3 linked regions of the Homo sapiens genome follow. The protein of the gene in region 3 purifies or fractionates together with the protein of the main gene of each other region. This does not show direct contact. Each region holds a gene or a part of one and is shown on either strand. Other genes may lie near its edges. The genes, in order: CLPTM1, RPSA2 and OR5M11.

Region 1 (3,657 bases), on a different chromosome or scaffold from region 3:
CAGATGGATCTTAACCAAATCCACAGGGAATGTCTGGAATAGTCCTCAATAAAGTGAAAGCTAGGTGGAGTACACAGAACTCCCGTTAGAAGAATGGGGGGCTTTCTGAGGAAGCCATTCTCCAGCTCCGCTCAAACAGGTACAGCAAGAGATTTCTACGGCTGCCCATCAGGAGACAGAGGACTCAGGGAAAAAGCTCACAGAGAACCAAGCAAGGCTGGGTGTGGCAGCTCACACCTGTAATCCCAGCACTTTGGGAGGCCGAGGCAGACGATCACTTGAGGTCAGGAGTTTGAGACCAGCCTGGCCAACATGGCGAAACCCCGTCTCTACTAAAAATACAAAAACTAGCCGGGCGTAGTGGCGTGTGCCTGTAGTCCCAGCTATTTTGGAGGCTAAGGTGGGAGAATCGCTTGAACTTGGGAGGTGGAAATTGTGGTGAGCTGAGATAGTCCACTGCACTCCAGCCTGGGCGACATAGTGAGACCCTGTCTCAAAAAAAAAAAAAAAAAGAGCCAGGCAAGCAGAAAGATGACAACAATTATTAACTTCTCGAAAACAAGAGGACGGACAATGCTATGGTTTGAATGTTTGTCCTGGCCAAAACTCATGCTGATTCTCCCACCTCAGCCTCCCAAGTAGCTGGGACTACTGATGTACTCTAGTACTCCCCACTCCCAGTGAAACTTAATCCCCAATGTGCCAGTACTGAGAGATGAGGCTTTTAAGAGGTGACTGGGTCATGAGGACCCTCCCCTCAGGAACTGATTAACCCATTCATGGATTAGTGGTTTAATGGATTAATGAGTTATCATGGGAGTAGAAGTGGTAGTCTTATTTTTTATTACTATTGTTTTTTCAGAGACGTGGACTTGCTCTGTCGCCCAGGCTGGAAAGCTGTAGTGCAATCACAGCTCACTGCATCCTTGACCTCCCAGGTTCAAGCGATCCTCCCACCTCAGCCTCCCATGTAGCTGGAACCACAGGTGCTCACCACCATACCTGGCTATTAATTTTTGTAGCAACGAAGTCTCATTATGTTGCCCACACTGTTCTTTGAATTTTATCTATTTTTTTTTTTTTTGAGACGGAGACGGAGTCTTGCTGTGTCACCAGGCTGGAGTGCAATGGCGTGATCTCAGCTCAATGCAACCTCCGCCTCCTGGATTCAAGCGATTCTCCTGCCTCAGCCTCCCAAGTAGCTGGGACTACAGGAGCATGCTACTACACCCAGCTAATTTTTGTATTTTTAGTAGAGACGGGGTTTCACCGTGTTGGCCAGGATGGTCTCTATCTCTTGACCTTGTGATTCACCCGCCTCGGCCTCCCAAAGTCCTGGGATTACAGGCGTGAGCCACTGTGCCCGGCCTCTATCTATCTTTTTGAGACAGGTTCTCGGTCTGTCACCCAGGCTGGAGTGCAGTGGTGTGATTCTGGCTCACTGCAACCTCCACCTCCTGGGCTCAAGCGATCCTCCCACCTCAGCCTCCTGAGCAGCTGGGACTACAGGCACACGCCCAGCTAGTTTTTGTGTCTTTTTTGGTAGAGACAGGGTTTTGTCATGTTTCCCAGGCTGGTCTCAAACTCCTGGGCTCAAGCAATCTGCCCACCTTGTCTCCCAAAGTGCTAGGATTACAGGCATGAACCACTGCACCCAGCCCACAAATTATTTTTGAGTGTCTACTTCTATCAGGCCCCTACTGTGCAAAAGTCAACCCTGGCCCTTCCCCCTTGGTGAAGGACGTCTCCTCCTCTCCAAGAGTCCCTGTCTCCAGCTGCTTTTTCTGGCCAATTTCTCTCTGGTCCCTGAGCCTCCGTGGGTCTCCCTTCCTCCGTGGGTATCCCTGCTTAGTGTCCACAGGGCTCTTTCAGGCTGGGTGGGGCTTGAGCCTGCCCTGCCAATCCCACCCTCTTTGAGCACAGGCTTCCTGCCTGCCCTCCTGGACTTGGGATTTGTCCGCCACATTAGCCTGGGGGCTCCCAGGATGCTGGCCTCCTGGACAGTGGGTCCTGGCTGCAGGGGAGCGACTTACTCCGGGACATGTGGACTGTGGCAAGCCGGCGGTACAGGGCCTTCTGCCGGGGGTCTGGGTGGAAGCCACTCTTGGTGAAGTAAACGTGGATGTAGATGGAGCCGTTCTGCTGGACGCTCTGCAAAAGACGGAAGGTCAGGTGGGCAGGCTGGGCAACTGGGGTGAGGGAAACGTTAAAGCCCTGCCTGGCACCCATCTGCAGCAGTTTCCTCCCCCTCAACTCTCTGGCCATTTACTGAGTACTCAGGGTGGGGCATGTAGCTGGGTGGCAGAGAGGTAAATGCTGGAGTCAGACAGACTCAGACGCCCGCTCTACCTGCCATGGCCGTGTGAGCTCAGCTTCTCTCTGAGCCTCAGGGCCCCACCTAGAGGATGCGAAGTTCCCACAGCACTGACCCGAGGGCACCACTGCAGGGACTACCTGGAGCACTGGCACACAGCTCAGTCAACGAGCTCTCGTTAAGCTCACTCAACAGGAAGAAGCAGCTGACCGACATGGAGCTCCTACTATGGGCCAGACCCTGCCCTGGGCACTTCAGACAACAGCTTCCTAATCTAACGAGTTAACACACATATAACATGTCAACCTTATGCAATGGGTCATGTTACCACCCCATTTTGCAGATGAGGCAAACGGGGCTCATGCCAAGGGGTCACATAGTGTGTGGCAAGTACGCAGATGGAAACCCAGTCTGTGGGCTCCTGGGTGCTACTCCCTGCTACCTCCAGCTGGCCCCTCTCTGCCCAAGTCTTCCTCATTATCTCATCAAGTCTCCTTGCCTCCCAGGGAAGGGGGACTATTCTCACTTGATCCAGATGAGGAAACTGAGGCTTCAAGAAGGGAGGCAAGTTGTCCAGGGGCACTGGGTGGAGACAAAGGCGAGCACTGAACCTCTCTGATCCTTGTGCAGAGCTCGAATTCAGTTGGCCACATTGTGTTCTCCTCACTCTCCCTATCTTTTTTAGAGATGGGGTCTTCCTGTGTTGCCCAGGCTGGAGTGCACTGGCTATTTGCAGTTGCGATCATGGCACACTACAGTCTTAAACTCCTGGGCTCTGGCCATTCTCCCACCTCAGCCTCCTGAGTAGCTGTGCCTACAGGCACATGCCACTGTGCCCAGCTCTCCTGCCTTTTAAGTCCACTTGGACCCCACCCTGAAGCTTCGACTTAGATCCAAGCCCTTGGAAGCAGATCCCCCTGCTGGGCCTGCCAGGCCCTGGTCCTTCCTTGGATCTCGTGGCAAGGCCTGGGGGCTGGGCTTGAGGTCTCTGTGGGAGTCACCTCTCAGTGCAGGTCAGAAAGTCCAGCCAGGTGGGGTGGTTCATGCCTGTAATTCCAGCACTTTGAGAGGCTGAGGTGAGAGGATCGCTTGAGCAGAGGAGTTTGAGACCAGCCTGGGAAACATGTTGAGACCCCATCTCTACAAAAAATTAGCTGGGCATGGTGGTGCATGCCTGTTGTCCCAGCTACTTGGGAGGCTGAGGTGAAAAGATTGCTTGAGCCCAGGAGGTTGAGGCTGCAGTGAGCTGTAATTGCACCACTGCACTTCAGCCTAGGCAACAGAGCAAGACCCCATCTCAAAAAGAAAAGAATGATGGCTGGACGCGGTGTCTCACGCCTGTA
Region 2 (3,657 bases), on a different chromosome or scaffold from region 3:
ATAATATCACACAAGCTACATCTTAAGTCAGAAAGTATAATATTTTATAAAATGTGCTTGAAATTGAAACTCCAAAGAAACAAAGAAGGACATCAAAAAATAATAGATTCATTCACAGGGAATCTATGACAAATTTGTGTGTGTGTGTGTGTGTGTGTGTGTGTGTGTCTCACATTAGGGTTCCAAGTATATAAAGCAAATATTGACAGAATGGAAGAAACACACAGAAAGCAATATAATTAGAACAATATATTTTAATACCACACTTTTTGTAATAAAACTAAAACAAGAAAGAATGTTAATAAAAGAACAGACTACTTAAAGGCAGTATAAAACAATTATTCCAAACAGAGTTATGGAGAACACTCCTCAACAACATCAGAATACACACCCTTCTCAATAGCTCATACAACATTTCCCTTGAAAGACCACATCTTAGGACAAAAAGGAAGTCTTATCAAATTTTTTAAAAGTAAATTTCTATGAACTACATTCTATGACCAAAATGGAATGAGAATATACAACGATAAAAGCAAAAAAAAAAAACTGAAAAATTTACAAATATATAGAAACTAAACAACACACTCTTGAGTGTGCTCTTACACAAAGGTTGAAATACTTAATATTGCAGAGTCCATCCTGCTCAATGCAATCTACAGATTTAATGCAATATTTTTCAAATTTCTCATTGCATTTTTGAAGAAATAGAAACACCAACCTCAAAAGTATACAGAGACTCAAAAGAAAAACAAACTACCCAACAATATTAAAAAAAAAAAAAGAAAGAAAGAATGCTGCAGGCATTAAAGTGCCTGATTCAAAACACATTACAAAGCTACCAAATTAAACAATTTGATATGAGTATAAAGGTGAAAAAGTAGACTAATAAAATAGAATGCAGCACATATATAAACTTTCACATATATGGTCATATAAGTAGTCATTTATAGACTCATAATTATTGCAGCATTTTTTTTTTTTTTTTTTTTAGAAACTGATGTTTATTTTCCATCAACCATTTTTCCATGCTGCTTAAGAGCCTATGCAAGAACAGCTTAAGACCAGTCAGTGGTTGCTCCTACCCATTCAGTGGCCTGAGCAGTGGGAGCTGCAGACCAGTCTTCCGTGGCAGGCTGAGCGCTCCAGTCTTCAGTAGGGAATTGCTGAATAGGCACAGAGGGCACCTGTACACCTTCAGACCAGTCTGCAACCTCAGGCTGAGTAGCAGTGAACTCAGGAGAGGGAGCAGTCCATTCACCCTGAAATTCCTCCTTGGTCACTGCCTTCTCAGCAGCAGCCTGCTCTTCTTTTTCAATCTCTTCAGGATCTCTGTAGAAGTACAGATCAGGCATGACCTCCCATGGGTGTTCACGGGAAATGGTGCCACGCATGCGCAGAACTTCCCGAGCCAGCATCCACCACATCAAACCCACTGAGTGAGCTCCCTTGTTGTTGCATGGGATGGCAATGTCCACATAGCGCAGAGGAGAATCTGTGTTACACAGCGCAATGGTAGGTAGGTTAACATAAGATGCCTCCGTGAGAGGCTGGTGGTCAGCCCTGGGGTCAGTAACCACAAGAAGCCGTGGCTCCCAGAAGGCTGCCTGGATCTGGTTAGTGAAGGTTCCAGGAGTGAAGCGGCCAGCAATTGGAGTGGCTCCAGTGGCAGCAGCAAACTTCAGCACAGCCCTCTGGCCAGTATTCCTGGAGGATATAACACTGACATCAGCAGGGTTTTCAATGGCAACAATAGCACGAGCTGCCAGCAGAAGCTTCTCCCAGGTCCTCTTGAGATTTATGATATAGATGCCATCACTTTTCCTTTTATAGATGTAGTGTTCCATCTGGAAGTCAAGATTGGTGCCACCTAAGTGGGTTCCTGCTGCAAGGAACTTAAGGACATCCTCCTCCTTCATTTGCAGGACATCAAGGGCTCCGGACATTGTGAAAGTTTCCCTTTAAGTTACGACGGGAATCCAGAACAACGCCGTATGGACCCCTCTGCAGGTAGCGCGGAAAAGCTGCAGCATTGTTACTGTAAGCAAATAGGTAAAAGCAATGCAAATATCTTTCAATAAATCATTCAGTAGATATAATTTGAAATATAAAAATTCTTCCCAGGCACGGTGGTTCACACCTGTAATCCCAGCACTTTGGGAGGCCAAGGCAGGCAGATCACAAGGTAAGGAGTTCGAGATCAACCAGACCAACAATGGTGAACCCTGTCCTTACTGAAAAAAAAAATACAAAAATTAGCCAAACGTGTTGGCACGTGCCTGTAATCCCAGCTACTCGGGAGGCTGAGGCAAAAGAATTGCTTGAACCCAGGAGGCAGAGGTTGCAGTGAGCCAAGATCGCCCCACTGCACTCCAGCCTAGGTGACAGGGCAAGACTGTCTCAAAAAATATATATATATATTCTGGAATATACTCAGTATTCAAAAGCAGGAAATATTCTACCAACTATAAATATAAATCTTGATGGCATTATGCAAAATGAAATGAGCCAATCACAAAAAGACACAGATTTTATGACATACATGAAGTAGTTATACTGTTAAAAACAAAAAACAGAGTGGTGTTTGCAAAACGCTATAAAACAGAAAAAATTGTGGCCAGGCATGGTGGCCCATACCTGTAATCCCAGCACTTTGAAAGGCTGAGGCAGATAGATTACCTAAGGTCAGGAGTTTGAAACCACGCTGGCCAACATGGTGAAACTGCATCTTTACTAAAAATGCAAAAATTAGCCAGGCATGGTGATGGGCACCTGTAATTCCAGCTATTCAGGAGGCTGAGGCGTGAGAATTGCTTGAACCCGGGAGGTGGAAGTTGCAGTGAGGTGAATCATGCCACAGCACTCCAGCCTGAGTAGCAGAGTAAGACTCCAGCTCAAAAAAAAAAAGAAAAAAGAAAAAAAGAAAAAATTAAAAATTAGTACTTGTTGTTTAATATGTGTTAAGATTTAGCTTTGCAAGATAAAAACATTCTAGCAATATGTTGCATGACAATGTCAAGATAATTGATATGACTAAATATTTAAAAATATTTTGTGGTAAATTTTGTTTTTTTTTGACAAGAAATAAACAATAATAACTAAAAGAGATACAGAGTTATGATAGTTTTAAATTATATTCAAATCCAAAAGTGTTTCTCCCACACAGAAATCATATAGATTTACAAATAAATAGGTTGTTGAAATTATAAAAATTTTATGGGCTGAGCATGGTGGCTCACACCTGTAATCTCAGTACATTGGGAAGCTGAGGCGGGCAGATCACCTGAGGTTGGGAGTTCAAGACCAGCCTGACCAACATGGAGAAACCCTGTCTCTACTAAAAATACAAAAATATTAGCCAGGCATGTTGGCACATGCCTGTAATCTCAGCTACATAGGAGGCTGAGGCACTAGAATCATTTCAACCCAGGAGGCAGAAGTTGCAGTGAGCTGAGATCGCGCCATTACACTCCAGCCTGGGCAAGAAGAGCAAGAGTCCATCTCAAAAAAAAAGAGTATTTTATGATGACTCATCTACGCAGAATTAGAAAACCATTCACAACAAACCTACACAACAAATATACAAGTTAGAAAAAAAATACAAGGATAACATTTATTTTTGTATACAGGAAAACAAACACAGAGATAATTCTATTGGAA
Region 3 (2,803 bases):
TCTTCACTATGTAAGAGCACTTATAAAAACCAGAAGCCATCACCATGGCCCCTAGTTTCTGGTCTACCACAGCAAGTCAGGAAAGGAGTACAGAAGAATGGATTTCTTGGAGTGCAGAAGAATGGGTTTCTTAAAGACATCTCTGCTGAAGCAGCAGGCGAGAATAAGAATAGAATACATTCAAGAAATTGGGCTGGGAGCACATTTATTTTGTTTGCCATTGTAAACAAAAAGAGCACAACAGTGTTCCAGGGCATGCCACGTTTCACCCACAGCAGTGCTCCTCAAAATTCAGTGTGCTTATCAATCATCTAGGAGTTTGGATAAAACACATATTTAAATACAGTGCACCTGAGGTGCAGACTTTGATTCTGTACGTGTAACAACCTCCAAGGAAGAGCTCATGCTGCTGATTCATGGAATATATGTGGAGGAGCAAAGCCTAGAAAAATCTCATTTTTACCCAGCATGAGCTTTTTAGCTGAGACACTCAACATAGACTCACAGAGAATATTAAAACTCACCATCAGAACGCTAGGACATGTGAGCCAAAGATTTCGATTTAATGTTTATTAGGAAACAAAGGCATCACCATGGTCATGACAATATTTCATCTCAGGACATTCTTCAAGGCCTGCTTCACATCTTTATTCCTCAGACTGTAGATCAATGGATTAAGTACCGGACTCACAAAGGTGTAAAAGACAGCTATTATTTTAGATTCCTCAACAGTCTTATCTGTTGGTGGTCTTATATACATGCAAAAGAGAGTCCCATAAAACAGGGTGACAGCCATCATATGGGAACCACAGGTGGAGAATGCCTTGTGCCTTCCCTCTGCTGATTTGATCCGGAGGATGGCAGCAAGAATGAAGGCATAGGACACCAAGACGATGGTGAGGGAGCTGGAGAGGTTGAAGCCAGCAGATATGAACATGGCATGCTCTTTGACATAAGTATCAGAACAAGAAAGCTTAATGAGCGGCGGGTCAGCACAGTAGAAGTGGTTGATGACACTGGATCTACAGAAGGTCAGGCGGAAGGTCAGGATGGCCTGGAAGAGTCCATCTGAGAAGCCATAGACATAGGGAAATGTGGCCAAGCAGATGCAAACTCTCCTGGACGTTTTCACACTGTAGCGCAGAGGGTCATATATGGCCACATAGCGGTCATAGGCCATTGCTGCCAGCATGTAAAACTCAGTGAGTAGAAGGGCAATGAAAATGTAGCACTGTGTAAAGCAACCAGCAAAGGAAATGGTCTTCTCAGATACGATATTAGTCGACATCTGCGGGGTTGCATTTGATGTATAGCACAAATCCACAAAGGCTAAGTTAGTGAGGAAGAAGTACATGGGCGTGTGAAGGCGAGAGTCCAGTCTCATTAACATTATCATGCCCAGGTTGCCTAGCAGGGTGACGAGGTAAACAACCAGAAACAGCACAAAAAGCAGAGACTGGAGTTCCGGGCAATCTGTGAGCCCAAGTAAAATGAATTCTGTGATTGCACTGCCATTTGTGTTGGACATTTCCTGACAGTTTGCTCTTCAAGCTATGGAAATAAAGCCAATATAAACAAATGCACATACCATGTTAATGTTCATTTGAATTAGTTTTTCTCCACATCTTCATATATCATCGAAAGTTATCTATTTCTGGGTACTACCATAAACTGGTTTTGGTAATTATGGTAGACTTACTATAATTTTGTAAGTCTACAATGTCATTATATCATTTGCCTAGGCATTACATTACTAATATATTCTTTCTCTACACCTATAGATATATCTATACCTACACCTGTATCTATCTATCCATCATCTATCTATCTATCTATCTATCTATCTATCTATATGACTGAGCTACATCTCTTCTATCTTCCTGTACTTTTTAAAACCTAATTCTATTCATGCTACATGACCCACTTTAAAGGCCACTTCTTTGTGAAGCATTTCTCATCCATTTCTCCTAATACGTGTCACTGAATTCTCTCTTCTTTATTTCCAGAGTATTCTATATTTCTCTAATTTATTATTTAGCCCCCATTGTATCATTATAAAGTATATACTTTCTCATCACATAATGGTGTTGAGAGCAGGGACAAAGTGAAGTTCATTTTTTAATTATACTTCTCAACACATATTTTTATACTAAATTTTCTTAAAATGCAAAAAGGAGAGCATGTAAGAATGAATGACTTGCAATTTTTACTCACAGATTTATCTCCATGTAGCCTTGCGTGATGTCATGTTCTCAGGAGAATTAAGTGATTATTGAAACTTAGTGTAGAAGCAATTCTTGGGAAGCTTGTTTATTAGCCCATATCACAGGTTTTTGCAGAAATTCTTATGTGGGGTACTGGAATCTTCATCTCTAATGATTATCTGTAGGATTCTAATGCAAGTGTTCCAAGATCATAGCTCAAAATGCACAGTCAGAATGGCTCAATAAACATATGCCAAATAAATGAACAAAGAACTGTGAAATAAAATAAATTTTCATATAGTATCTTGAGGATGTTTAGAGCAATGACTTAATGTGTTTAGAAAGAAAATAAATTAATATTTTCAGAGTTGGTATTTAATCTTTTAATCACAACTTGTATCTAACAAGAGGTATTACAAATCCTTTTGGCTTTTTACCTCTCTTCACATCAGAATCTTTGCTAATTCACATTTTCCTTTCTTTCGAGAAGTTTTTAATTTTTGCCCATTCTTTCATACTTGAAATTTTTATTACAGGCTTCTCAATTCTTGTCTCATCTCAAAATGAGTCACCTCATTTATTTTACTGTAAGTTTTAGA

The links.
Region 1: the proteins of OR5M11 (region 3) and CLPTM1 purify together in Homo sapiens (affinity purification with mass spectrometry; one large-scale study listed by BioGRID and IntAct). This does not show direct contact.
Region 2: the proteins of OR5M11 (region 3) and RPSA2 purify together in Homo sapiens (affinity purification with mass spectrometry; one large-scale study listed by BioGRID and IntAct). This does not show direct contact.

Annotation. Positions count from the first base shown.
Region 1 is NC_000019.10:44,975,837-44,979,493, reverse strand, and holds part of CLPTM1 (putative lipid scramblase CLPTM1), read right to left. Parts: intron 2,152-3,657; coding exon 2,034-2,151; intron 1-2,033. UniProt on the Homo sapiens protein: Involved in GABAergic but not glutamatergic transmission. Binds and traps GABAA receptors in the endoplasmic reticulum (ER).
Region 2 is NC_000019.10:23,825,448-23,829,104, reverse strand, and holds the end of RPSA2 (small ribosomal subunit protein uS2B), read right to left. Parts: intron 2,891-3,657; exon of another isoform or gene 2,770-2,890; intron 2,036-2,769; 5' UTR 1,944-2,035; coding exon 1,056-1,943; 3' UTR 237-1,055; downstream 1-236. UniProt on the Homo sapiens protein: Required for the assembly and/or stability of the 40S ribosomal subunit. Required for the processing of the 20S rRNA-precursor to mature 18S rRNA in a late step of the maturation of 40S ribosomal subunits. Also functions as a cell surface receptor for laminin.
Region 3 is NC_000011.10:56,541,730-56,544,532, forward strand, and holds OR5M11 (olfactory receptor 5M11), read right to left. Parts: upstream 1,529-2,803; coding exon 611-1,528; downstream 1-610. UniProt on the Homo sapiens protein: Odorant receptor.